Homo sapiens: one gene and its partners. The protein of the gene in region 2 purifies or fractionates together with the protein of the main gene of each other region. This does not show direct contact. Each region holds a gene or a part of one and is shown on either strand. Other genes may lie near its edges.

Evidence for each region.
Region 1: the proteins of FAM136A (region 2) and CDYL purify together in Homo sapiens (co-immunoprecipitation; 3 studies listed by BioGRID and IntAct, with this or other methods). This does not show direct contact.
Region 3: the proteins of FAM136A (region 2) and HCCS purify together in Homo sapiens (affinity purification with mass spectrometry; 3 studies listed by BioGRID and IntAct, with this or other methods). This does not show direct contact.
Region 4: the proteins of FAM136A (region 2) and RBFOX2 purify together in Homo sapiens (affinity purification with mass spectrometry; 3 studies listed by BioGRID and IntAct, with this or other methods). This does not show direct contact.

What each region holds. Positions count from the first base shown.
Region 1 is NC_000006.12:4,933,391-4,940,413, reverse strand, and holds part of CDYL (chromodomain Y-like protein), read right to left. Parts: intron 4,900-7,023; coding exon 4,643-4,899; intron 2,850-4,642; coding exon 2,677-2,849; intron 1-2,676.
Region 2 is NC_000002.12:70,299,047-70,306,931, forward strand, and holds the start of FAM136A (protein FAM136A), read right to left. Parts: upstream 3,022-7,885; 5' UTR 2,966-3,021; coding exon 2,558-2,965; exon of another isoform or gene 1,935-2,557; coding exon 1,794-1,934; intron 1-1,793.
Region 3 is NC_000023.11:11,106,732-11,114,336, reverse strand, and holds the start of HCCS (holocytochrome c-type synthase), read right to left. Parts: upstream 3,006-7,605; 5' UTR 2,819-3,005; intron 2,319-2,818; 5' UTR 2,277-2,318; coding exon 2,177-2,276; intron 1-2,176. UniProt on the Homo sapiens protein: Lyase that catalyzes the covalent linking of the heme group to the cytochrome C apoprotein to produce the mature functional cytochrome.
Region 4 is NC_000022.11:35,808,802-35,815,824, reverse strand, and holds part of RBFOX2 (RNA binding protein fox-1 homolog 2), read left to right. Parts: intron 1-5,820; coding exon 5,821-6,045; intron 6,046-7,023. UniProt on the Homo sapiens protein: RNA-binding protein that regulates alternative splicing events by binding to 5'-UGCAUGU-3' elements. Prevents binding of U2AF2 to the 3'-splice site.

The DNA of each region.
Region 1 (7,023 bases), on a different chromosome or scaffold from region 2:
AAAAATATACACAGGAAGAGCTTTTATCCACATAAAAATTAATTTAAATGCAAATAAGAAAAGGAAAGGTTAAGTGACTCTGGTGTAACTAATTATTTTTCTGATCTTGCCAGACTACATTAAGGAAAATTCACATTGACAAAAATATAGTCACATAAAGAAGAAACAAGTTGGTTTTCCTAAAGCAGGACTTGGCTCTTCACAAGAATATCAATCCAGCTTTTTGTGTGGAGTAGGGAGAGTGGACGGAGCAGGGAGCTGATGAAAGTGAACTTTTAAAGTGACATCAAGTTCAACAAAGGAGATCTCCACTTAAACCTGGCTGGATCTAGCTTTCCTCTGCTTTTACTGATCCCAGCGCCACAAGCCCACAGCCTCTGTCCAAGGGAATTCAACGCTGGAGGGAGGAGTGAGCTGCACCCGGCGAGGCACCAGCGGGCTCACAAGTGGAGCCAGGGAAAAGCCTACACGGGAAAACGGAGCCAGGACCCAGAAGGCACTGGCTGACACATCCGATTTTCTTATGACCGCAGAGCTACCAAAAAGCACAATATTATGTGTACATTCAGCGTGATATTATGGAGAACATGCAAAGTGACCATAGGAGGCATGGTGGTTTGTATTTTAAAAATAAAAGTTAAGTTCATGGAATTCACCCTGAATGGATAATAATGAAGCTGTCTTAGAGGCGCTGAGAGTCAGCCAAGGATTTATGACACTGATCAAGCAGTTTAATCTTAAACTGAAGAACAAGATGGTCCCACCTAGTGTACCACAGGGATGAAATCCCCTAGGAGATTAGAAACAATACTTAATAAGATCAGACTATAAAATTTCAAACCACTTCTGAAAAAAACCACACATAATGTGATAGCCTGTAAAAGGTAACATTCAAAAGATTAAGGGATAACCTCCTAAATACATGTGTACATCATATGAGAAAATATAGTAATTCTGAAAATGATTAAATATGTCATGAGAGGCTAAGGCAATCCCCTTCAACCCAGAGGTGTGGGTTCCAGGACTCCTGTGATGGGCTGTTTGGTGCCCATCAGAGCCATCTTGGGTGTCAGTCAAAGAAAGACGTCCCTGCCTACCCCAGACTCAACAAAACAGAAAAAAGAGCCCCCCTACCCACCACACCAATCCTGCTGTGCAAGCTCTAGAAGGGTTTAGGTGCTAGAAAGCCCAGTGCACCAAGGGCAGTGCTCAGCTGGAGCCTAGTAACTATCAAAAGTAGTTCAACTTCAGCCCTCCAGAAATCTGGGATTTTGGAAAAGATCCAACTTACTTTACTGCCATTTTGCCAGTCTACGTTTTCTTTCATTTTTCATCCTCTGTAAGTTAAAAAGGCAAGCACAAAGGGTTTATGGGGGCCACCTGGGGATATGTCATTTTAGGGAGGTGAGTAGAGAAGCATAGCCAACTTTCATGTTGATGACTAGGTTTCATCCATTTTAAATAAAATTCATCTCCGAAAAATCAGACACTTCTAATTATACATGGAGTGATTAGCATGATAAATGAGGGGATATGATTTTAGACGAATTAAGTGGTTTTAGAGAAAGTTTTGCTGATATATGTTATCATATAGCAGAGGAAAATCCAACAACCAAGGAAATAGAAATATCTCAAAGTCATATTGTCACATGAAAAAAGCAAGTTGCAAAGCAACAACAGAACTAAATTGATACTATTTGTGTGTATATATGAAATAAAAATTTGAAAATGCTTAGATCAAGACATCTATTGTACATCATGGTGACCACAGTTAATGTATTTTTATACTTGAAAATTGCTGAGAGTAGATTTTAAGTGTTCTCACCACACACACAAAATAGTAAGTATGTGAGGTAATGCATATGCTAATTAGCTTGATTTAACCATTCCACAATGTATTCGTGTTTCAATACACCATGTTGTACACTATAAGTATATACAATTTTTACTTCTGAGTTTAAAAGTAAGTCTAAAAAATTAAACTGAAAATTATAACAAAATGTTCAGAAAAAGGTTGGGGAAGACACACCAATGAATGTTGGATACCTTGAGGGGAGTGAGGGACAAGGAGGACTTCTGCTTTTTATTTCCTACTATCTGGTTCTCTGTCCAGTTGGAACTTAGGATGAAACTGAACAAGAATGTGCACTACTTGTATTTAAAGAAACAAAAAAAAAAAACAACAAAAAAAACCAAAAAACAAAACTCTCCATGTGGTGTTACGGAGCTATCTCATCATAAAGCCTAGACAATTTACTTCAGAGTCGAGCAAATGGTAACTTACTATTTGGAAGAGATCTTTATCTAGGGGTTGAGGACAGAACATACTCACGGCACAAATAATAGGAACTCTGGCTACCCATGATCATCTACTCTAATCATCAGAACATTCTCCGAACACTTGCAGGGTTTAAACCAACCTTGAAATCAGTTATCTGCCCAAGGCAAGTAGTAATTCATGGCAGGCCCATAGAAAAGATTTTGCCCAAGGCAAGTAGTAATTTATGGCAGGCCCATAGAAGAGACAGATGATTTAATTAATTTTGCTGCTCGTGTCTCTCCATGGGAGAAGATGTGTATCTTATTCTCAAGGCTTGGTCAGGCCCATTCTATCAGGATTGGTTTACCAAAAACAAAACACCCAACCAATGTTTAAAAAACATCATTTTTACATACCTGATAGCTTCTGCCATTTTAGTGCTTTCTCTTTTCCTGTCATCTGTCAGACGTCGTATAAAATAAATAAAGTCAAGTCCACAACAGAAGACGCTGCCAACGGCGCTGAGCAGTACCAGCTTGCTGTCATCGGCAGCGGCCGTGCTCAGAGCACTCTGGACTTCTCTCATTACCTGAAAGTCACCAGAAGTTAAAGTGGCAAAGAATATTTTGGGTTTAAAATCTTAAAGCATTTTTTTTTTTGGAGAGAGTCTCACTCTGTTGCTCAGGTTGGCGTGCAGTGGTTTAATCAAGGCTCACTGTGCTCTCTAACTCCTGGGCTCAAACAATCCTCCCGCCTCCGCCTCCTAAGTAGCTGGGACTACAGGCTTGTGCTATCATGCCTGGCTCATTTTTCAACCTTTTTGTAAGAGATGGAGTTTTGCTATGTTGTCTAGGGTGGTCTTGAACTCCTGGGCTCAAACAATCCTCCCGCCTCAGCCTCCCAAGTAGCTGGGACTATAGGCTTGTGCCATCATGCCTGGCTCATTTTTCAACTTTTTTTGTAGAGATGGAGTTTTGCTATGTTGTCTAGGATGGTCTTGAACTCCTGGGCTCAAGTGATCCTCCTGCCTTGGCCTCCCAAAGTGCTGGGATTACATGCATTAGCCACCGCACCCTGCCTAAAAGCATTTTATTACTGGAGAATCTGCATCTGTGAAAAATGCATCATAGCCTGATACAGTTACTGATATCTACCATGATTTTAATTAATTTGCAAATGTCTCATTTTCTGTAACCAGAGATTGAGATGCTGGGGATGGAGTAAAATATAACTACATAACTCGAGTATAATTAAAAAGACATGGGAATCTACGTTATCTTAGTATTTATACAGCCATTGCGGCTCTTAGATAAGGCAAATTGCGGCTCTTAGATAAGGCAAGTTGCTTATTATATCACTGGGCATTTCTCCAGTTTGGACAGCAGGTGGCACATTCAAACCAGTTGAAAGAAACTCATTCAGTTCTACTGTTTTTTGTTTTGTTTTGTTTTAAAAACTACCCTATTACACTTGGGACAGAAAATAGTTTGGTGCGTAAGTGCGTTAAGTCCAAGCACATTAGCATGGACTGGTAATTTTAGGGCATAAAATCATTTTAAATGATCTCTGTGAAGCATTTAAAAATAATCAATGAAGGGACTCTGCAGTCTAAAAATGTACCAAGGACCAACTTTGAACTGGTTTGTTATGTGACCCCGGGCGAACACACAGACTTTCTGTAGTTAAGTTTTCTTGTCTGGACAAAACTCAACCTAGCTACTCACAAACTACTAGGACTTAAAATTTTGGAAAGATATAGGTTAGGTTCAAATACTCCCGATTCTAGAAACTTCACAAAATTCATGTTCTAACCTTTCCAACAACCAGTTCTGGAAAACTTACTTACTAGGCACTATCAGCAATGAGCATGTGTGGAAATCCCTGTTGCTGTGTGTTCTGCTACAACCGCTGAGGAGTATCTGGGGACTGGAAAGATGATAAATATTCTGAAGGGACTGGGATCCCCGGGGGCACTTAAATTCTGTCTGAACAAAGAACCCTTTAAGGATCTGATGAAAGCTAAAGCAAAGCGCGTGCACACACATTTCCCACGTGCCTTCATGGAGCCCCGTGCCCGCCAGATGAAGAGCTTCCAGGCAGGAGGTGAACCACAGAGGCACAGAGGCCTGGGTGGACCCACACCCGGGAGAATGGGGATGGACACTCAGCACAGGCCAAGCATCCTGAATTCACGGCCATTGGAGGTGGGACATGGAGCAAAGCCCGCAACTTCCCCTCTGCTCCCTCCCTTCTGGTGGGCATCGGGAGATGGCCCAAAAGGAGGTTTAGAAAGAGCACAGGAAGAGCCAGTTCAGCCAGGCAGGCCTGGAAATCAGGCAGGGAGAAGCGCGAAGCCCACGCCAGCCCAAGAGCGCCTCTCACCTCTGGATTTAGTGAGTTATTCTCTGAGGACTTTGTGGATAACAAGATGTGGGTGAAGCCATCCTGCTTCCTGACCACAATATCTCTGTATCTGTAGGCACTTTCTGTTTGCCTCACGCTGAAACGCAATCGCTTGTCAAAAGGCTGGTCTCTTCTGTCGTCAATAAATTTCCTTTTGCTGGCAGTCACTCCTGTAACAGATGTCTGTATGTTGGTTGTCCCATTGGCTGTTAATGCATCCATGAACGGAGATGTACCTGCCGAGAGTTTGAAATCACAGTAGTCTGTGATGTCCCACCACCAGTTCACTCCCAGGTGTCATCTTTGAATTGGATAAAGATGTTCATTACACACTTAGGATTAAACGAATATAAGAATATTAAAACTTAGAACCTTTAGAAAGCCAAAGTCTACTTTTAAAGCCACTTGCTCTCTTTCAAGCTCTGACAAGAAAGTCACTCTTTTGTTTCACCTTGCCTAAAAAATACAGATGGAGAGGTACTTATTGAAAGGAAGCTACATAGTTAGAGATTTTTTTAAAGGACAGAATCAAGACAGAATGGGTCTCATGGAGAGTATCTATTCCAGGTTTGAGAAGCCGAAAGAAAAAAGGAAAATAATCAAGAAAACATCTTATTATTAGAGTCAAGGCCATCTAGTCGAAACTTCTTTTTCCAAATGCAAGATAAACTGGATAGACACGTGGATGCAGCCAGCCTTCTCTGCGGGTCATAGAGCTGTGTGGCAGCCACCACTTCAGACCACCACCCCTGTGGGACACTCAGGAGTTGTTTCTAGCTGCCCTGGGAGGGACTATCAGAAAGTCCATCTACTTGTTCCAGTTCCACTCCTTTTTCAAACAGCCCTGTTAAGCAGCTGAAGATAGCTCTCCTCTCCCCCACCACATAAAGCATCCTGCCAACGTTCCCTCGTATGTCACAGCTCAACAGCAGCAACTGTGTTTTGCCAGGGTCTTGAGATGGGGTCTTGCTATGTTGCTCAGGCTGGTCTCAAACTCCTGGCCTCAAGTGATCCTCCTACCTTGGCCTCTCAAGCAGCTGAGATGTACAGGCATGAACCACTGTGCCTGGTTAAGAATGCAAATAATTATCCTCCTGTCTGTATGAATTGTCCAAATATGATCCAATGTGGTGATGAATGTAGAGTGGATGGGGAAAAAAGGAATGAAATGTAAGAAAACTAGATCAGACTTTACTAGTAGCATTAGCAATGGCAGAAGTTCTCTGAGGGCGGAGCATGAAGAATTATGAATCAGAAATATTTCCTCCAAAGTGAAAGAGAATAAGCCAAAGCCACCAGAAAACTCATGAATGGACATTTCAGAGGAGCCAAATAACCTCCCTGGCAAAACAACCTGACTTTCATTCAACTGGTGGAAATAATATTTTAATTGCTAGAGGTTTTTTTTTAATTATATTTTTGAAAAATTTAAAGAGGTTATAATACATACATATGGTTCAAAAACCTAAGAATATAAAAGATATTAAGGTGAAAGCCCCCCACAGCCTGATCCTGTTTACACAGGATCCCCCTGCCCTCTTAGCCACTTGGGCTGGGTTCTCAGGGGCCCCTCCAGAGTATCTCCATGGATATACAAGAAAACATCAATACAGACTTCTCCACCACCCTGGCTTTTAAAAGCACAGATGGCAGTACACTAGATGTAGTATAAGATGCTGTATCTTATACATTGTTGTCTTGCTTGTACATATATAAGATATACACATTGTTACATCTCATGGTTATTCCTTCCACAATATCTTAGAATGGCTCCTCTATCAGAACATAGCTTCCTGTTCTTTCCTAAGGCTGCGTGGCAGGCGAGGCCCAAGGTAGGGATGCACTGTAATTCATTTTCCAGTTCACACTGCAATACGCACTACTATTCAGTGACTTGTCGATATGACCAACAACACAGTGACACATAATCCTGACCTCTGTCATCCCAGTGCTGTCAAATCTCTACAAGCTTCCAAAGGACTTGTAGCCTGGAGTAGTTCTAACTGGAGACCACTGGGTCGGATGTTACCAGTCAGCAAAGGTGTTGCTGAGTCCTTCTGAGGGACTCAGGAAAGACTTTTTCTTTTAACCTCCATCCTCTACCCTACCAGATCCTTCTCCCATCTTTGTTTAAAAACGTTTGACAATCTCGTCTCCCCTCAGGAACCCTCTCTAATCTGTTCCTCCAGTCTCAGTCCCATCACGGCCTCACCTGCCTGCACTTGCTGTCTTCACCTCTCCCTCTGTCCATCATTCTTCAACCCATTCAACTGGGACCCAGAGTCCACATGGCCAGGAACCTTCTGAGTCTAGAGAAATGGATGCTGGATGACTCTAAACATGTGAGCCTGGGGGAGCGG
Region 2 (7,885 bases):
CCCATCTATAAAATTAGCTGTCAAAAAGAACACAAAGAAACCCTTTGGGGTTCCATGATCTTGAAGAAGTTATTCCTTCATAATGGCAGTAACTTTGAAGCGTTTTGAATGGAAGAATGTAAAGATGTGTCACATTATGTATAAGTTTCCATGTGGATGGAACCTCAGGCTATGAAAGGCTGGCTTGGAAGTAGGCTTGCTTCCCCCAGGTTCCAGAAAAATATACTTAGAAGATGGGAGTAAAATGAAGTTGTGGATACTCTTTGCTCCAGAGAGGGAAACAGGGAGCTCTTTTGGTAACCTCAGAGGGGCTTGTGAGCCAGGAATCAGTGAGTCAACAGTAATAATGATTCACATAAATGACTGCTCCTTAGTGACAGAGGGGCTGCCCTCTGGGTATAGCAACTAGGGGCAGTCCTGGGTGGGTGTATAAGTCCACAAAATGGTGGAAGGGTGTTCCTCGAATCTGTACCTTTTCAAGGCTATCCTACCTTTCTAGAGATTCTGCTGTTTTAAAAATAATATATGTTTTAGGAAACTTTATTTTTTTATTTTTATTTTATTTATTTTTTGAGACGGAGTCTCGCTCTGTCACCCAGGCTGGAGTGCAGTGACGTGATCTTGGCTCACTGCAAGCTCTGCCTCCCGGATTCACGCCATTCTCCTGCCTCAGCTTCCCGAGTAGCTGGGACTACAGGCGCCCACCACCACACCTGGCCAATTTTTTGTATTTTTAGTAGAGACGGGGTTTCACTGTGTTAGCCAGGATGGTCTGGATCTCCTGACCTCGTGATCTGCCTGCCTCGGCCTCCCAAAGTGCTGGGATTACAGGTGTGAGCCACCGTGCCTGAACATTATTTATTTTTTTTTGAGACGGAGTTTCGCTCTTGTTGTCCAGGCTGGAGCGCAATGGCATGCGATCTTGGCTCACTGCAACCTGCGCCTTCCAGTTTCAAGCGATTCTCCTGCCTCAGCCTCCCGAGTAGCTGGGATTACAGGCACCTGCCACCATGCCCAGATAATTTCTGTATTTTTAGTAGAGATGGGGTTTCACCATGTTGGCCAGGACGGTCTCAAACTCCTGACCTCGTGATCCACCCGCCTCGGCCTCCCAAAATGTTGGGATTACAGGCGCGAGCTACGCGTCCAGCCAGGAAACTTTATACTACACAGTATACATTCTGTATTTGGTGGTTATGTCAAAAGGAACAAACAAACGCCTCCTCCCCAACAAACTGCATAAGGGCTCTTGGTCATGAACTCCCCTGGTAACTCCCCATTACATCATTTCTTTTTTTTTGAGACAGAGTCTCGCTCTGTTGCCAGGCTGAAGTGCAGTGGCGCGATCTTGGCTCACTGCAACTACACCTCCTGGGTTCAAGAGATTCCCCTGCCTCAGCCTCCCTAGTATCTGGGACTACAGGTGCGTGCCACCACGCCTGGCTAATTTTTTGTATTTTAGTAGAGACGGGGTTTCACCATGTTGGCCAGGATGGTCTTGATCTCCTGCTCTCATGATCCACCTGCCTCAGCCTCCTAAAGTGCTGGGATTACAGGCATGAGCCTCCGCGCTCGGCCTACATCATTTCTATAGGAAATGATGTTCAACTTAAGGCACTCGACCGCCAAGACTTTTTCCAAAATTTCAAACCCTGTGAAAACTGGTTGGCCATCAGTATCACAACTGTTAACAGAACCAAGACACTAAAGCCAAGAGTTTTGAACAAATGCTTGTCATCTCCTGCAAAAGTCTGTATCAAGGACTACAGTGCTCTGTCTAGGATATTTCTCACCTGGAACTTCTCCAGCTCACTGGTGACCAAAGCCTGGGCTTGAGCCAGAGGCACATGGCAGCGCTCGATGCACTGGTGCACCTGCTTCATGGAGGCCTGGCTGTCCTCACAACAGCTGGCGCTGCACCGGAACATGAGACCCTGGGGAGAAAGGGCAGAGAGGTTAGGTAGGAAAGTCTCTGGGGACAGAGATGACTATGGAGCACTACAGGAGTTAGAAGGCCACGTGGATATTTGCACCTCTCTCTCCACCTTCTGCTTTCACCTTCCCTGAGAATAGACACCAGGACCTTAAAACCACCACTGGGGAAAATTATCCTCAATGTCTAGTGTAGTGTTTCATGGTGTCCTTGCTGCTAGCTCATCGGCACCTGTTGCACCGATGGTTGGGTGAACAGAGGTTCGCCCGAGTGGGTGAGGGTAGGGTGGTCTGACGAAGCCAAATTCTGAAAACCAGGAGCCTCTTCCATGGGGTTCAGAGGTCAGCAACCTAGCAATACAAATTCCACCAGAGGGCAGCCGACCCACTAATCAATGACTCAAGGGGCACTATCTGGGAAACGCATACTCCGTGAGAGAAGCAGGACCGAAACACACAGAGGCATTGCGGGGCTCAGAGAAGAACAGTGTAGAAACCCGCGCTGTGTGAAGCGAGGTTGGGCGCAAGAGAAGCAGGCATGACCTGGCCAACGGGGAGGCCGGAAGTCCTCGCCTTTCTGGTCTTTCACGTTGGCAGCGCCTCTGCTGGGCCTCGGGCCGCTCACCTGCGGAAGGGGCCGCGTAAGAGGGGAAGGTGGTGGGGCGAGCGCCTGCCACCAGGGGCTTCCCACCTGCCGCCGAGGACGCTCCTGCCCCGGGCTGGAAGGGGCGGAAAACAGCCTCGCGCACGGCAAGGGCACACGGATTTCATCCGATCCGCCAAAGCTTCCGAAGTCCTGTCCGAGGCCGCCCCGGCGACCCCAGGGCCGCCCACACCCGGTCTGCGGGGACGCGGCTGCAGTGCAAGGCGTCGCGTGGTGGCTGAGGGAAGGGCCCGGAACCCACCCGCTGAGAAGGGGGTCCTGGTTCGGCCCCAGCCCCGCTACCTGCATCTTCCGGATGTTCTCTCTTTCCAGACTCTTCACCATGGACTCCACCGCCTCCTGCACCCGGAGCTGCTGCAGCTCAGCCATGGCGACCCCGCGCTGCCCCGCGGCGCTCCGCGCCGGCGCCCATATGGAATCGGCGTACGGGCCCGCCCCCTCACCGCCCTTCGCCGCCCTTCGCCGCCTGCCCTTCCAGGGCCCACGCCCCCCCCTGGCGGCCGAACGGAGCCACTGCATGCTGGTGTCCGCGAGCCCACCGCCCTCCTCCCGCTTGGGAACCGGTCACTGGGACACCTGCCCTGCGGCTGCTGCCTGCCTTTCCTCCTCCCTCCCATGTCCCTCCCTTTACATTCTTTAAAATTATTTAATGTAATTTACATACAGATAAATGCCCAGATCTTAGGCGTGCTGCTTGATGAGTTTTAACAAACCCTGTCCGCCGGGCGCAGTGGCTTACGCCTGTAATCCCAGCACTTTGGGAGGCCGTGGGCAGGTGGATGACCTGAGCTCAGGAATTTGAGACCAGCCTGGCCAACCTGGCGAAACCCCGTCCCTACTAAAAATACAAAAATTAGCCGGGTGTGGTGGCACATGCCTGTAGTCCCAGCTATTTGGGAGGCTGAGGCAGGAGAATTGCTTGAACCCGGGAGGGAGAGGTTGCAGTGAGCCGAAATCACGCCATTGCACTCCAGCCTGGACGACAGAGTGAGACTCTGTCTCTAAACAACAATAAAAACCCAAACTCTGTCTTGTCCCAATCTCCGTCCTTTCTACCCCATCTCCCCACCCCTGCCCTAACTGGTCTGCTTCTGTCACTGTAGATTACATTTTCTCTTTCTAGAATGTCATATGTATGTTATTATCCAATAAGTACTCCTTTTCTGTCTGGCTTTTTTAGCATATTGCTGAAAAATACTTAGCCTAATGCTTTCGAGATTGAGCTGTGTTGTTGGTTCTTTTTTGCTGCTGAGTAGTATTCTATTGAATGGACATACCACATTTGTCGTTGTTGTTTTTTGAGACAGGGTCTTACTCTGTCACCCAGGCTGGAGTGCAGTGATGTGGTCTCGGCTCATGCAGCCTCCACCTCCCTGGTTCAAGTGATTCTCATGCCTCAGCCTCCCGAGTAGCTGGGATTACAGGCATGTGCCACCACGTCTGGCTAATTTTTTTTTTTTTTTTGTAGACACGGGGTTTCACCATGTTAGCCAAGCTGGTCTCCAACTCCTGAGCTCAAGGGATCCACACACCTCGGCCTCCCAAAGTGCTGAGATTGCAGGCATGAGGCATCGGTCCCGGCCCACATTTGTTGATCCATTCCCCTGCTGATGGGTGTTTGGGTCTTTTCCACTTAGTAGCTATTATGAATAAAGTGGTGACTATGAACATCCTTGACCATTTTTTTTTTCTTTTGGAGATGGGATCTTGCTATGTTGTCCAGGCTGGTCTCAAACTCCAGGCCTCAAGCTATCCTCCTGCCTCTGCCTATCAAAGGGATTACGGGTATGCACCACCACCCAGTCCTGGACCAAGTCTTTTGTAGACACAGATTTTCTTTTCTTTTGGGTAAATATCTAGAAATGGGATTGTTGGATCACAGGGTAGATGTATGTTTATGCATTTATTTCTCATAAAAAATGAACTTCAGAGACAAAGCAGGGGCTACAGATCATCAATGAAGCAGTCATCAATGAAGCACTTACATGCCAGCAACATGAAACTGTTTCTGAATTCCTGGAGCAGTTTTTTTTTTGGAATGCCTCACTGTCCCACCCATAACAGTACTGTCGTGTGCATTCATTTATCGAATACATTAGCTAGGGGTGCGGGTCCAGAGGGGAGTGTCAGTGGAGAAGGGAAACACACTCCGTGGAGAAGGGGAAGGGGCAGTGTTGGAAGAGGTGTGCTGGAGGAGGTGGTCCAGGCTGGCAAGGAGGGAGTGAGCCATCCGGGTTCCTCAGGAAAGTTTTCTTAGAGGAGATAAGGCTTGAATTGAGGCTTTGAATTGAATTGAAATGAGTGGGTGTTTGCTTGGCATATGGGGCTGAAGAGAAAGCCATGTCAGGCATGGGGGTGCAAGGTGGGGGTGGGGGAGGAACAAAGGAATGGGGCCGTCATTAGAATTTAACGATTTTCTGCCATTGGGCGCTAGATGGCAGGAGAACTCTAGTTTAGGGCAGTGGGGAGTTTGACTCAACCCAAGCTTCTTTGAAGAAAGCTATGTTTTGATTGGGCACGGTGGCTCACGCCTGTAATCCCAGCACTTTGGGGAGCTGAGGCAGGTGGATCACCTGAGGTCAGGAGTTCAGGAGTTTGAGACCAGCCTGGCCAACATGGTGAAACCCCATCTCTACTAAAAGCACAAAAATTAGCCGGGCGTGGTGGCAGGCACTTGTAGTCTTGGCTACTTTGGGAGGCTGAGACAGGAGAATCGCTTGAATCCGGGAGGTAGAGGTTGCAGCGAGCTGAGATCACGTCACTGCACTCCAGCTTGGGCAACAAAGTGAGACTCTGTCTCAAAAAAAATAAAATAAAAAATAAAAGCAAGCAAGCAAGCAAGCAAGCAAGCAAGCAAGCAACCAAACAAGCTGTGTTCTTCCAGCGCCAGGCCCTCTCTAGTGAGTACAAGTGTGAGTATCTCCCCATAAATCACAGTTCAGGGTCTTGAGACAGCCTGTTCACTTCAAGCTCGACTACAAGTGGCTCCCAGCAGCAGCTGGAATCAGGGCGACACCAACTATTAAATAATGTGCCAGACAGTGTTTTAAGTGCCTTCCACGGGATGATCTCATTTAATTTCCATGACAAAGCACCCTATGAGGTGGGTACTTTACTCTCCTCTCTTCTCTCACTCAGGGCAGAAAACTGAGGCCTAGGGAGATGAAACCACTTGCCAGAGATTGCACATTTATAAACTGGTGGAGCTGGAATTCCAATCCTGATGGGCTAACTCCAGACTAGAAAAAGTAGGAAATCTCTATTGTGACTGACTTAATGTTTATACTTATGTCCCATATTCCACAGAAAGTTCTTTCTTTCTTCTTTATAGCACAATCTGAAACTACTCACTTCTCCCTCTTATTCCTAAAATGCCAGACAGAACCTCTCCAACAGCTCCTACTTGTAGGAGCCAAGTTAATCATGCTAAAATGAGTTTAAAAGTCCTTGAGTAATGCAGCCTTGTTAGTTTCTATACACAAATTGAATGGTACTTTTAGTATTTACGAAAAATGATTCTTGGCTGGGGCGGTGGCTCACATCTGTAATTCCAGCACATTGGGAGGCCGAGGCGGGCAGATCACTTGGGGCTGGGAGCTTGAGACCAGCCTGGCCAACGTGGTGAAACCCCCATCTCTACTAAAAATATAAAAACATTAGCTGGGCATAGCGGCACACACCTGCAATCACAGCTACTCAGAGGCTGAGGTGGGAGAATCACTTGCACTCAGGAGGTGGAGGTTGCAGTGAGCTGAGATGGTGCCACTGCACTCCAGCATGGGTGACAGAGCGAGACTCTCCCTCAAAAAAAAAAAACAAAAAAACAAAAAAACAGAAAAAAAAAAACCCAGAAAAAAAAAAAAGAAAAATGATTCCTGACTTCCAGTTAGTTGGCTGTGGAAATCCCATGGGAGTCATGGTGGAAGCAGAGTTTAATCTCATGTTAGGAAGCTCAGATACCTGTCTGTGCTATTACCCTGGTGCTTTGAGGGTGGGAAATGAGGTTTCAGGATTATCTGGCTCAAGCCTGGGCTGACTCACTGGAAACAAGTCACAGCTCTTTCAGGATCCTGGGTAGTCAGTTCTGTCATCTTGATTCCTTTCCCACCTCTCCTGCATGCCATCCTGTGAACGCAGGCCCCGCAGTGCCAGAGACAAATGGTGGCACAAGAGGGACTAGGGCTCTTTCCTATTTTCTCATGTTCAGGATGTGGGTGAGATAAATGGGGGCCAGGAGGCCCGGGATGAGGGGAGGAAGTGAATTTTGCTAGATGCTGCTACCTTTTCTAACCCTCAGGTTAGCAATGGGTGGTAGCCAGAAACCCAGCTATGGCCAACCTTGGTTAAAGACTTCCAGATGAAACTTTATCAATCAAACTGATAATTTAGAAAGCAATTCTCATGTTATCACTTGTTTTTAAATTAATGCCAACAAGAATGAGATTGAAGTGTTATCACTCTCTAGTCATGACACTCCTTGGTCGATTATGATGCCTTGCTGGGGAAAAGAAAACTCACAAGCAAAGAACACTGTCTTCTGCAGAATGAAGAATTCAGTCAACTTTTTGGAAGTCACAAGTACTTTTTAAAAATATATTCAATTGCTGGCCGGGCATGATGACTCACGCCTGTATTCCCAGCACTTTGGGAGGCCAAGGCGGGTGGATCACTTGAGGCCAGGAGTTCGAGACCAGCCTGGCCAACATGGCGAAACCCCGCCTCTACTAAGAATACAAAAATTAGCTGGGCGTGGTGGCGAATGCCTGTAATACCAGGTACTCAGGAGGCTGAGACATGAGAATCACTTGAACCCGAGAGGCAGAGATTGCAGTGAACCGAGATCACGCCACTGCACTCCAGCCTGTGCGATAGAGACCTTGTCTCAGGTTAAAAAAAAAAAAAAAATATATATATATGTACACACACACACACCCCCCCACACAATTGCTTCAGAGCTCTCTGCCAAAAAAATACATATATATTCAAAACTTTGGTTGAATAATTATTTTATATATGTATATTATTAAATATAAAATAAAGCAAATGTTTTATGATTATAAATATCCAATTATGTAAATATCTCTTGAATCTATTCACATCTCTCTAGCTTACTGTTATCACCCTAAAGCCACTATTATTATTATTATTGCCTGGCCTACTACAGTTGATCCTGTTTAAATCTTCCTATTGTGGCTAGGTGGTGGCTCATGCCTATAATCCCAGAACTCTGGGAGGCCGAGGCAGATGGATCACTTGAAGCCAGGATTTTGAGACTGGCCTGACCAACAT
Region 3 (7,605 bases), on a different chromosome or scaffold from region 2:
GAAAATGAACAGAGGAGACATCACAGAGGCTACTGCAAAAAAATCTGAATGCCACTCTGCTTTGTCTCAAGACTGAAACAAGGCACAGGAAAACCACGTGGCCTATGGCCTATTCCCATCAGTCAATGGCAAGAGTTTAACAGGAAAAGACAGACAATAAAGAAAATATTCCACAACCCATACAGGATCAAGATGCCCATTACGAGGGAAGGTCTGAGCCTAATGAGATGAGCAATAGCAAGGGCTATGCCCAAAGACCCAGGATGCTGATCCCAATTAGTGAGGGACTGGGAAACTGGTTCAGAGAATGAGCAGGCACTTGGAGAGCTGAGACACAGAAGACAGCTGCTCATGTAATGGAATCTTGGCCTCAGGCAGCAGCAGCAGCAACTACAGCAATACACATGAAAAAGCTGAGTTTGCTTTCACTTCCTTCCCTGCACTTCTCCTCCCAAGCCCTCATTTCCTGGTGCCCTGTGCCACTGCCCACTTTAGGGGTGAAGGAAGACTTGCTATGCCTTTCCTCTCTACCACTGAAAGCACCAATCCTTTCCAAGTCATAGATCCCAGCTGGGTGTTACAAAGAAAATAACATTTCAACTTTTCACGTCATATAACCAGTAGCCCCTTCGATCTCCTATAGACACCCACATTCTTTATTAATGTAGTAAGTCTGGCAGCTCTCCAAGATATACAGCAAATGAAATAAAACCAAAGTAAGGGTTCTAGAATCTCCCTGAGGACACTCAGAACAGGAGCACACCTGCTTTGGCTGATCTGTCTCAATTCTTCCTGTACAAAGAAACCCCAGAAGAACACTGCCTGTCCTTGTCCAAGGTCACAGAACTTTTGCTGGCTTTGCCACTTACTATGTGACTTGGAGCATCAGTTACTCCAAGTCTTAGTTTCCTTGACTATAAAATAGGGAGAAAACTTAGCTTATGAAGTCGTAAGACCACATAGCTTATGAAGATGAGAATGTAAGCTCTATCAGGCAAAGCTCCATTTTGTATGATGTTATTCTCTCGTGCAGAAACAAACAAAATCCAGCAATGCTTGGTACAGAATGGGCAGTGACCTCTCAGAATAGGCTGGCTGACTGAAGAAATGAATAACAGCGCAAACATTAGTACTCAGTAAGCACACCATGTTGCTTCTGCCCTTCACGACTTACTGATTCAAGCCACACTTTAATATAAAAAATCTAAAGTAGACATGAATGAATTAAAAATGAAAGACAGCTTTTCCATTTTCATTTTCTTATCTAAAGAATGGACAGCAAGCCCGTTAAGTGATGGCTTACTTTTATATACGAAAATACTGAAATGGCTATACGAGCAAAAGTTATTTATTAAGACAGCTAGATCTAGACTAAGGTTTCTCAACCTTGGCCCTCTTGATATTTGGGGCCAGCTGATTCTTTGTTGGGGGGCTGTTCTGTACATTGTAGGATGTTTAGGAGCACTCCTGCCCTCTATTCACTTTCCTCTCAGTTGTGACAACCAAAAATGCCTCCAGATATTGGCAAATGTCCCCTGTGGGAAGGGGGGATTGCCCCCCTCCAGTTAAGAACCACTGATGTAGGCACAAGTAAACTTTGGGAAGTTGGGGCTGGTTTAGAGTACTCACTACGTTCTCATGTACTACCTCAATCATCATGACAGGCCTGTGAAACATTATTATATCTTCATCTTACAGATGACAGACTGAGGCTAACAGAGTTAACTTGTTTAGAGTCACAAACCTCAATAAGACGCAAAATAACGACCAGACCCAGGGTGCCTGACTCCCATGCCTACCAGCCTCAGCAGCATACTACACTGCCTCTTCCTTTAGAGGCTTTCCAGACTTTTTTTAAGACACAGTCTCACTCTGTCACCCAGGCTGGAGTGCAGTGGCACAATCTTGGCTCACTGCAACCTTGGCCTCCCAGGCGATCCTACCCACCTCAACCTCCAAAGTCGCTGGTACTACGGGCACCCACCAGCACGTCTGGCTAATGTTTGTATTTTTTTGTAGAGGGAGGTTTTTGCCATGTTGCCCAGGCTGGTCTCGAAGTCCTGAGCTCAAGCAATCCACCCACCTCGGCCTCCCAAAGTGCTGTCACAGGCGTGAACCACCGCACCCAGCCGTGAATTATCTTTTGTTTTTATTTTCTAGGCAAAGGGCCGATTACCTTTCATTTTCCCTTCATGCATCGGGCATCCTGAAGGTGGGGACGCTGAAGCATTTGAGGCCTGAACTGCAACAGCAGGAGCAGATGGAGACAAACCCATGGCTGGAAACAGTGTTGACTGTAAACAATTTTAAATTTCCACCTGCCAAAACAAAGAGACAGATTAATGTCTCTGGACTCAGACTATTCTCTCGTTAGTCCTAATCTGGTCAACCCTTGTTCCTCCTCTTTGTCATCCCATGGGCATCTACCAGGCAGGGTACTAACTTCGAAGGACAGCTTTAATATATTGCCCCCTTAGGGAAATACTGTGAAACCCAGGCCAACCTCTGGGGGCACGTATGTATCTAAGGCAGTGAGGATTTTGGGACTGAGGTGAGGCAGTCGCTGAGAAACCACGTCACAGCCAGGAGGTACAGGCCTGAGGCGGGAGTGGGGCGAGGATTTCCGAGGAGTGGTGACCCGGGTGGAGGAGGGGAGGTCCATTGAGCCTAGACTTGACCCCCATCCCCAGAGCCTTAGCGAGGGGCTGGGGGTCCGAGAAGGGTGCGGCGCATGAATAGGAATTCGAAGAAACGAAGGGACACCAGAGGTCGAGAAGCTGCCAAGTGTCTTCCCCACACCGTCCCGGCGCTTGCCCACCTGCTCCAGCCCGTGGTCCCCAGACCAAACCGGCCGCGGCCAGCCTGCCCTTCTGCACCTAAGCCCTCCCCCGGGCTGTTCCGGGAGGCCGGTACCGCCTTCAGTCGCCAACCCGAACCCAGAGCAGCAGTGACTTCACGCCGCCGCCGCCGCCGCCGCCGCCTTCCTCTCACTCGGTCACCGCTGTGGCTGCGGTCACCGCCGGCGTTCTCACGCACCCCTACTTCCTTTTTAGAAGGCGGGACTTCCGGGCACGCGGGAGGCGGGCTGAAGAGTAATATTTTCCGTCAATCACGGAGAGCGGGTTCCGTCCCCTCCTCGCCCCGGCCTGTAACTGCTGCGGGGGCCGCTTTCTGGGCCCGCCCCTCCAGGCCAGGAGCCTTTTTCAAAATGTGGCGGTGGCAGGGAAGGTTGTCTGCTCCAGAGGCTTCCCTAGAGTGAAGAGCTCTACTATGTATGCTTTATGCGGCAGAAGGAGTGCTTTGGAGGAGTTTTTAAATTTGTTTTTTTTTTAAATCTTATCGGTTTTAATTGTAGCAATGATTCAAGAAACGTTAGTAGGTGCCCATAACTTCGGTGGTGGAGATCCAAAAGTGAACAAGACAGTGTTCTGGCTGCTAAATTCTTCTTAACTGGGTATGTGATTTTGAATGTCTGTATTTTCATTTACCTCCAACAGAAATTTAGCATTTTCTTCCATCAGGGATGTAGGCAATAAATCCTAGTACTATTAGCTGTATGTGGCACTAATACACATTACAGATAAATTATGTCACATATGGTTGTTGTGCCTGTCTCAAAATATCATCCATCCACTACTTTGAAATTAAGGTAATTTGATCTTGTTACTTAAAGTGTTAATAAAGAAACATATATCTTTCTATATAACTATAGTGGCTCTGTGAAATACGTCCAGATGTCCCCTGGTGCAGAAAGTGTTGGGGGCTCACAGCTTTCAGCTGAGTCTCCAGGAATTGTCCTCTGCCTAAGAGAATTGCCTCACACAAAATCACTTCCCCTCCTTGGGGACGATCTGCATCCTATGAGGGTCTCTGCAAGGGCACATAAGTCCAGGCCCCTAGCCCCAAAGGGGACAACTCAGAAGGGCCATCCCAGCATCAGAACTGCCTACAGGATAGCCCAAGGATTCCATTTCAACTATCACAGCTCAACTTCTCTCTTTACCCACAATTCTTTTGTCCCTCCCACAATTCCTTTTCACTCCCGCAATTCTGTTTTGTTACCCACAGTTCTGTCTCCCACAATTCTCAGTTCTTTCCACAATCTTCTGTCTCTCCCACAATTCCTTATTTCTCCCACAATCCCATGTCACTCCCAAAATTCTATTCCTTCCCACAATTCATTTTTCTGTCCCACAATTCCTTGTCTTGCTCACAATTCTCTTGTTTCTCCCATGATTCCTTGTGTCTCCCACAATTCACTTTTCTGTCCCACAATTCCCTGTCTTGCCCGTAATTCTGTTGTTTTTCCCAAAATTTGCTGGGTTTCCCAGCAAGCCTTTATTCTTTCCTACAAATTCTTGTATCTCTCAAAATTCTGTTTCCCACAGTTCCATTCCTCCCACAGTTCTCTGTCTTTTCCATCATTCCCTATGACTCTGTCTGTCACAATTCCTCAAAATTATTCATTTCCACAATGTTCTGTTCATTCACAATACTCTGTTCTTATTCCCCAGTCTCTCCCATAATTCCCCATTATCTCTCATAATTCTGTTCTTTCACAATATTCTTTTTCATGATTTCCTTTCTCCCACAATTCTCCCTTCATTCTCATAATTATTCCGTCTCTCCCACAACACTGTATTCTCTCCCATGGTTCCCTGTATCTCCCAGAACTCTCTGTTCTCTCCCCCAATTTCCTGTCTCTCCCTGAGTTCTCTGTTCTCCCACAATTCCCTGTGTCTCCCATAATTCCATGTTTCTCCCCACAATTTTTGGTTTCCTCTCACAATTCTCTGTTCTCTCCCACAATTCCTTATCTCAACCATAATTCTGTATTCTATGCTACAATTTCCTATCTTTCCTATAATTCCCCATCTCCCCCACAATTCTTTGTTCTTTCGCAGAATTCTCCACTCTTACAATTCTCCATTCCCTCAAAATACTCCATGATTGTTCACAATTCCCCAGTCTCTCCCCTAACTCCCATTCTCTCTCATAATTCTGTTTTCTCACAATATTCTCGTTCACAATTTTCTATCCCACAAGTGTCCCTTTTCTCCCACAATTTTGTGTCTCTTCCACAATTTTTTGTTCTCTCCCACAATCCTGTGTCTCTCCCACAATTCTTTGTGCTGTCCTCTCCACAAATCTATGTCTCTCCCACAATTCTGCTCTCTCCCACAATTCTGTGTCATATGCTACAATTTCCTGTCTTTCTCATAATTCCACATCTCTCTCCTAATTCTTTCTTCTCTCTGATAATTCTTCACTTTCACTCACAGTCCTCCATTCTCTTAAAATTCTCCATCCTCATTTGCAATTCTGTAGTCTCTCCCCTAACTCCTTAGTCTCCCTCATCATTCTGTTCTCTCACAATACTCTATTCTCTTACACAATTTCCCATCTCTCCCACAATAATCTCTTCTCTTTCATAATTCTCCCTTCTCTCCCACAATTCCCCGTGTGTCCACAATTTTGTGTCACTCCCACAATTCTCTGTTTTTTCCTACAATTCCTGATGTCTTCCCCCTTTCTTTATTATCTCCCACAATTCCCTGTCTCACCTACAAGTCTCTGTTCTTTCCCATAATTCCTTGTCTTTCCCATAATTCCTCGTATCTCCTACAATTCTTTGCTCTGTCTCACAATTCTCCACTCTTGCACTTCTCCCTTATTACACAATATTCTGTTCTCTTTCACAGCTGCCTAGTCTGTCTCCCAATTCCACATTGTCTCTCACAATTCTCTGTTCTCTCATGATACTTTATTCTCTCCCGCAATTCTCCCTTCTCCCACAATTCCCTATCTCTCCTATCATTTTCTGTTCTCTACCACAATTCTCAGTTCCCTTTCACAATTTCTCAGAAGACCCAAGCCTGGTCCTGTAACTTCAGTGTTTCAGGGCCCAAGGGGAAGAACATGCCCAGATGAGTGGTATGTGATCAGGAGGAAGGGGTATGGTGGGAGGGTTTGTGGTTATAATGAGAGCAGGTGTCAGGAAAGGTGTGACTAAGGGGGAGCACAAAAGACCAATTATTTGTTTTTTTCTACAATTCCTGAGTTCTTCCACTTAATTCCGTATTATAGCACTTGACAAAAGATTTGCAGTTATGTATTTGAATGTGTAATTCTCTTACCTATGTATGGATTTTCTGAAGTTAAAAAATAGATCTTATTTGGCTTTATATCCGCTATATCAGCACAACTCAAAATGTGTCTTGCCAGTGGGGACCAGTTCACACACTGTTACCCTTCTAATATGAGATGAGGAGCTTTCACCACAAGGCAAGGCAAAGCATTGCTTGCCTCATCCAGAAAGTCTTACTATGAAAAATGTCTCATCTCAGATAAAATTGTGCTTAGTGGCATAGCAGATTTATATTATAGTACAAGATTCTTAATTCAGTGTTGGCCAATAACTAGCAGTTTCTGGACTGGCACTTGGGTAGCACTGCCCTATCATTACAGTGTAGTTTCTGTTGTATAATTGAGTGCTCACTGAAGCAGTCAGAAGCAGACACTGGAAGGGATCACAGAGTCAATGAATCTTGAATGAGTGATGTTTCACTCATTCAGCAATATTTATGGAGCACCTATGATGTGTCAGGTACTGTGGGAAGTGCTGAGAATTTAAAAGTGCTAGACAGACTCCTTGCTCTCAGGGAATTTACATTCTAGTAAATGAATAGATTGGACAACAAACAATCCAACACAAACAGATAAATAAATAATTTAAGATCCTGATAAAAGCCACCAATTAAATGACACAGGTAGTGTGACAAAGATTGAGGCATGGGGGTCTACCCACCCCTGTGGGTAGATGATCTGTGGAGCAGAAAATTTGTATTCCTCGGGAGCTTGTTAGAAATGCAGAATTTCAAGTCCCTCCCCAGAACCACTGAGTCAAAGTCTGTCTTGTAACATGATCCCCAGATGATCAGTGTGCACGATACAGATTGAGAGCTCAGGATACCTTCTCAGATATGGTTGTCAGCAAAGACCTCTCTGAGAAGGGTGACGTTTTAGCTGAGACCTGAATGTTGAGAAGGACCCAGCCATGTGAAGATCAATGCAAAGAGTGGTCCAGACAATGAGAATGCCATGGTAAAATGTTCTGAGATCAGAAAGAACAGGGAAAGACCAGTGTGGCCCACACAGAATGAGTTGGGGGCAGAATAGTAGGAGGTGATGTTGGGGCTGGATCATGCCATAGGCCATGAGGAGGAAGTGACATTTTCTTTTAATTGAAATGTGAAGCCATGGAAGGGTTTTTAAAAAGAAGAATTATTTGATCTGACAATAGAGATAGCTTGTTTTTCTCAACTTTGCTCTTCACCACTTTCTAGTTATGCCTGGAGACCTTCACTTGGTTCTGTGCCAGCACTGCCCATGAACTTCATAGACTGTGATCTTTGCTAAGGCCTAAATGAATGAAGGTAAGTTCCTAAGACATAGCCAGTAGACCCCCCACCAATAGGTCTGTGTTCCATGGAGTCTGCCAGCATTCATCACATGTGTACTCAGAGGGACCGTGTCTACATCAAAGGCCAGGGTTACCTCTTGCTCTTGGAAATAAACACTACTTTTCCTTAAAGGGATTTATTG
Region 4 (7,023 bases), on a different chromosome or scaffold from region 2:
TACTTAAAAGTAAAAACATTTTATTTGTATTATAATCCTAGAAAATTAATTTCCATTTATAAATAGCACTAGAAAAACTATTAGTGACATTGTCAGTGGTAATAAACTGGTGAGAATATGCTCTACCAAAATAATGAAGTGATTCTTTTATGATGGTGTGAATAAAATTAATATTGATCTGTTTGTGTGCATGATCCATTCTGACCATATATGTGGTATGGGAATTGAGAAGCTTTTAGGATTTGCAGCCTGTTGATTAGAAGCAATACAATAGCAGTTTATGTATATAAGTGGGACTCAAGGTGACCAAACTGAGAAAATTAGAATGAAGTTGAGGAATAAATGAGAAGATATAAACAAAAATACACCCTTCTCTCTCAAAGATTACATAGACTTTAGTTATCCTAGAAATATGAAGACAATTATATTTTGGGTCATTTCTGTGTTCTCTTACAGTACTGTGCATAGGTTTTAAATAATATTCAGAATAATTCAGTAGGAACAGAAAATATGCTAAAGAATCAGTAACAAAACAGTTTCACCTGCTCTCTCAATTAATTTTCACACCCACCTCTGAAGTAAACAACCCATCTGGTAAGTGGTATAATTGGAATTTAAACTCAAGTCTGACTTTTAGGTTCATGCTTTCTTCTGTTTTACTACATTCCATGTAAACTGGGGAGAAGGCACATGGTTGGACCTAGAAAAAACACTGAAAGTCACCTGTCGGTAGGTGATGATTGAACCTCTGAGATTGCTGTGGGTAAGGCAATAGACTGTTGAATGGGTTCCTGTTTGACGACTGTAATACTATAGTTGTCTGTCCATAGCCACGGGTTCTGCATCTGTGGATTCAAGTAGCTGCGGATTGAAAAATTAGGGTGGGAAATTGGATGACTGTGTCTGTACTAAACATGTACAGACATTGTTTCTTTTTAGGAGACAGGGTCTCCCATTGCCCAGGTTGGTCTCAAACTCCTGAGCTCAAGAGATCCTCCCTCCTTGGCCTCCCAAAGCATTAGGATTACAGCTGTGAGCCACTGGCCTGACCAGACTCTTTTTTCTTGACACTTTTTTCTTTTCTTTTCTTTTTTTTTTTTTTTTTTTTTTTTTTGAGACAGGGTTCCACTCTGTCGCCCAGGCTGGAATGCAGTGCCATAATCATAGCTCGCCACAGCCTCTATCTCCCAAGCTCAAGTGATCCTCTTGTCTCAGCCTCCTGAGCAACTGGGACTACAGGCACATGCTACCATGCCCAGCTAATTTTTAAAAATTTTTTGTGGAGACAGGATCCCACTATGTTGCCTAGGTTGGTCTCAAACTCCTGGGCTCAAGTGATCCTCCCTCCTCAGCCTCCCAAAGATCTGGAATTACAGGCATGAGCCACCATGCAGGGCCTTGTCATTATTTTCTAAACACTACAGCATAACAACTATTTACATAACATTTACATTGTACTAGGTATTATAAGTAATATAGAGATGATTTAAAGTACACAAGAGGATGTGTGTAAGTAGGTTATATGCAAATACTATGCCATTTTATATAAAGGGCTTGAGTATCCAAGGATTTTGGCATCTGTGGTGGGCGGGGGCTGGGAGGTTCCTGGAACCAATTACCTGCAGATATGAAGGGACAACTGTATGTTTGAATTCAGAATGAAAACATTTAGCATATTTCACATTGTACACCAAAAGGCTGTATATAATATGTATCGCCTCTGTTACTATCTGTGGTTTAAAAGAGAAAGACATCATTCTCAACTCAGAAATTAATAGTTACATTTGATTTTCACTCACAGCTGGTCAACAACTCTTAAAGCCTGTGTTTGTAAGACAGAAGGAAATTAAGTGCATAAAGCACAAGCATGTAAATGTTGATTCTTTGCTTTCCTAATGCTTCCCCACTTCTACTTTCCCATCCCTGCACTCCAGTTTGATATCAACCCAAGATACCAACACTTGTTTCACTCTGTGTTATCCCTTGTTATGCTCTCTAGCCCAACAAAGCAGTTTGCTGTAATGTGCACACACCTGACTTTCTATCTCAGTCTTCCTCTATTTCATAAATGTTTAACACTTCATATTTATTATGTACGATGTGGGATTCTACATTGTACAGGACTGTCTCCACCCATCATAATGAGCCTTTTAATCTAATAGGGGAGTTAAAATACATATTTACGTTTGCTAAGTATGAGGCTTTAGATTTCAATGTCTTATAGGGGATGCAAGCTAAATGTTATAAGAATATAGGAAAGGAAGGAATTACTTTTAACTGGAAACAGAAGAAAGTTTATAAATTGCTAGGTTAGGGAAAAGAGCTATTCTGTCTAGCCTTGTGGACTAAAGAGAAAGCTAGTAATTTCTTTTCTCAGATGAGATATACTTAAGCAGCTTAGCCTCTGGTAATAGAAACAAAACATTTTTATATAAGTATAGAGGTAAATTCATACCTAGAAATACTCATGTGAACTGTTATCTCATAGTTTGCTGAAGGCTGTTGTACTTCTCTTCTGAGCATAGAACTTTGGAATATGGCCTGGAAATTTAATACAAATCTGAAACCATTTGACATTTTTAATAATGTATACTTGGGGAAATATTCAGACATTGCATGCTATATGAGAGAAAATGTTAAATCACTCCTATCCCAATTTCATTCCCTTAATATATAAACAATTGTTGTTACATTTTTAACAAAAATTTTAAAAGAAATTTCTGTAAGTAACAAAATAATCCACTAAGAATTTCTTCTTGACCTCTTAAGGGAGGTACATAACCCCTCTAGGAAAACAGAGCCTCTGCCTGGCTTGCATTTCTGTAAAACGCCTAGTGCCTAGGCTACAAGTGGATTGCAGGAAATGTTTTTACCTTTCTCCCCATCTCCCACTGCTAATTGATGTGTTTATTCAGTTATCTGAGTCAGCCCTGTTGAGAATAACGCTGTGAGAGAATTCATACTGTGTACTTGTGTGCCAGAGTCTCATTCCCAGCAGGCTGGGGTGGAGAATGGAGGCTGGAGTAAAACGAGGAGGCTGAAAGGAGCAGTGTCAGAGCAGGAGAAAGTCGCCTTGGCCTTGTTAATCCTAACTTGAAAACTCTATCTTTTAGCTTTTACCAATTATTTAGTAGAACTTTCTTATGGATTCCTGTGAGATTATATTTATGCCTGATGTGGGCATAAGACCTTTGGTGCTCTTATTGTGTTTCATTCACCAGTCCACCTGAATTCCAATTCAATTCTTTTTCATGTCTGTCTTCAGGCCAGTAGATTCAGCGAGGGCTTCTGAAGCAGTATGTTTCATATGGCTAGAGAGAGACAGAGAGATAGAGCATTGAATAATTTGAAGGGGAAGGGAGATAACTATTTTATATCTCTCGTCAGATGCCCAGAATAGCTATAAAGACATCATAAAAACTATCCTAACCTAGAAATAACGTAAAGAAGTTATATGGTGATGGGTGACGAAGATAGACTTTTTCCAAAAAAATTTAAAGTTTTCATAACATATTTTCTAAGAACTAAAGAGAGGGGTTTTTTTTTTTTTCTATCTTTTGAGATGGAGTCTCACTCACTCTGTTGCCCGGGCTAGAGTTTAATGGCAGCGATGTCAGTTCACTGCAATGTCCTCCTCCTGAGTTCAAGCGATTCTCCTGCCTCAGCTTCCAAGATATCTGAGATTAAAGGCATTTGGCACCATGCTTGGCTAATTTTTGTATTTTTAATAGGGATGGAGTTTCACCATGTTGGCCAGGCTGGTATTGAACTCCTGACCTCAAGTGATCTGCCCGCCTCAGCCTCACAAGGTGCTGGGATTACAGAAGTGAGCCACCACACCCAGCCTTTTTTTTTTTTTTTTTTCCCTTAAGAGACGTGGTCTTTCTGTTGCCCAGGCTAGGGTGATGCAATCATGGCTCACTGCAGCCTCCAGCTCCTGGGCTCAAGCAGTCCTCCTTTCTCAGCCTCACAAGTAGCTGGGACTACACATACCACCATGCCCAGCTAATTTTTTAAAGTTTTTCTAGAGACAGGGTCTCTTTGTGTTGGCCAGGCTGATCTTGAACTCCTAGCCGCAGGCAGTCCTCCCATCTCAGCCTCCCAAAGTGCTGGGATTACAAGGGCATGAACCATTATGTCCAATAGCAGGAAAATTTTTATGTAAAGCAATTTATTTTTATTTTTATTATTAATTTCTGTTACAGAATCTTCATTCCTGCCTTTACCAGTTTGCAAGGGCTGCCATAAGAAAGTATTACATAACAATATAGCAATGTATTTTCTTACCATTCTGGAGGCTAGAAGTGCAAGATCAGGGTGTCAGCAGGGTTGGTTTCTTCTGATGTCTTTTTTGTTGGCTTGTAGATGGTCATGCTCTGTGTCTTCACATGGGCCTCCCTCTGTATGTGTCTGTATCCACATTCCCTTTTCTTATAAGGACACCACTCCAATTGGATTAAGGCCCACCCTCATGACATCACTTTAATTACCTTTTTAAAGACCTTATCTTTAAAAACAGTGACATTTTGAGGTACTGAGGGTTAGAACTTCAACATACGGGTTGGAGACTGAGCACAACTCAGTCTATGACTCTGCCCCTTCCCACTGATAACTGTAATCAGTTCATCACTTTTTATCTAGACTGTGGCAGCCCCCCACCCCCAATTCTCTGCCTTTTTTCTTTCACCACTATTGTGTAAAGCAGTTTTTATTACCAAGTAGAAATGATTCTTGGACATTGGAGACAGCTGAATTTTGAAGTTGTTTAACTTTTAAATGGAAGAGAGTTATGAATTTTTGTTTCAAGGTAGGTCACTACCATTCTCTTAAGAGTAACACAGTAATTCAGTGTTTCAGAATATTGGCTTCCCCTTATTGATGATATATTTTTTGTCATTCTCTTTAGTATTAAAAACAATATATTTGTATAGGTTTTATTACAAAAGTAATATATGTTTATTATTGGGGCACAAGGAAACTTTTGGGGGTTTTGGATATATGTGTTGACTATCTTGATTGTGGTGATGATTTCATGAGAATATAAGTGCATATATCAAAACTTACCAAATTGTATACTGTAAATAAATAAGTGCTGTTTATCATATGACAGTTATATCATAATAAAACTGCTTAATTTTTTTGCTGATTTGATGACTAAAGACTTGGACTTACTTTGATGTTAATGTGAATTTTCGTGACAGTTAGTGAGGTTGAGCATTTTTATTAGTTGTTTGTATTTCATTTTCAATGAATTGTTCAGATACACAGTTTGCCTGTTTTTCTCTTGGGATGTGTGTGTGTTTGTGTGTACATGTGTGTCTGTCTTGTCAACTTGGTTAACCCACTCTGGGACTAGTGATAATAACCCAGCATCTCTCTTACCTTTTGCTAATATTTTCTCCTAGTTGATTTTTCTTTTTTGTTTTTCGTATTTTTTAGGGACAGAGTCTCTCTCTGTGGTATAGGCTGTAGTGGCTTGTGGTCCAAAGTGGGCTCTCCACCTACTTTTAATTTAAAGGAAAGATTTTTGCCCCTTTGGCATCTAGTCCACTTAAATATGGTTGTGGGCCTGTCTAGTAACTACACATTAACAAAAGTGAGTGTGTGTGTGTGTGTGTGTGTGTGTGTGTGTGTGTCTGTCCACATACATATATCTATGTGTGTATGTGTAATAATATTTTCTCCAATCCTGGAGCAATAAGCATTCCATTTTACCTATGCAGTGAGAGAATATTCAGAGAATTCCATATACTCACTTTAAAAATAGTTACGTAACAAGGATTCAAAGTCACTTTTTCTTTCTCTTGTTGTTTGTTTTAGGGTAACCAGGAGCCGACAACAACTCCTGACGCAATGGTTCAGCCTTTTACTACCATCCCATTTCCACCACCTCCGCAGAATGGAATTCCCACAGAGTATGGGGTGCCACACACTCAAGACTATGCCGGCCAGACCGGTGAGCATAACCTGACACTCTACGGAAGTACGCAAGCCCACGGGGAGCAGAGCAGCAACTCACCCAGCACACAAAATGGATCTCTTACGGTACGTGGACCATGAGGTGAAAAATGGAAGGATGCATGGCAATCATATAGAAATTGTCGCCTTAATTATACAATTAGAAGACTCTCGGAATTAATTTAGCATTTACACCTGTTCTCATTTACACCTTCTCTCAACAGCATTGTATACATTGTCCTCCCTCCTCCTAGAAATACTTAGTCTCTTGGCTTTTCGAGCTCTCCCAATTTTCCTGCCAAGCACTGGGTGTTCTGCTCCTGCCTCCTTCTCTGTTCAACTTTTAAATGGTGCAGTACTCCATATGTAGGTCCTGGAACCCCTTTTCTTTTTATTTTATATCCTTTCTCTGCATAATTATACTACCAAACTCAAGCAAAACCTAGGAATATTCTTTCTTTCTTTCTTTCATCTGTACATCTAATTGATTAGCAAGTCTTGACAACCATAACTCTAAAACTACTTCGTCTTCTTCTCTACATCTTATTACTCTTCCACCAAATTGCTTGTGTTTGAATCTCAATATGGCCCCTACTAAACTGTGTGACCTTGGACCAGTTATTTAATCTCTCTGCCCTTGGCTCACTCTAAAATGAAGATAATAGTACCTACCTGAAGAGGCTGTTAGGAAATTTAAAAGAATTTATCATCATCACTGCTCTAGTCCAAACCTCATCACTTATTTCCGGTATTACTGTTGCCTAACTTATCTATCCTCCACATAGGACTAAGGTGGTTTTTTTTTTTTTTTAATGCAAATGCCGATTTCCTACTTAACTCTTAATAGTTCCCTAATGCAATTAGAATATAATCTGAACTCCGTACTTGGTTTACTAGTCTCTAGCCCCAGCTTACCTCTTTGACTTCACCTCTTACTACTAACTTGCTAAAGTAAAGGAAATGTCATAAATTAATAATAGGTATATATCTCATACATACCAACATATGGGAAATTGTATTGTCTCTTGCTTTGTTGTCCAGGCTGGAGTGCAGTGGCATGAACAT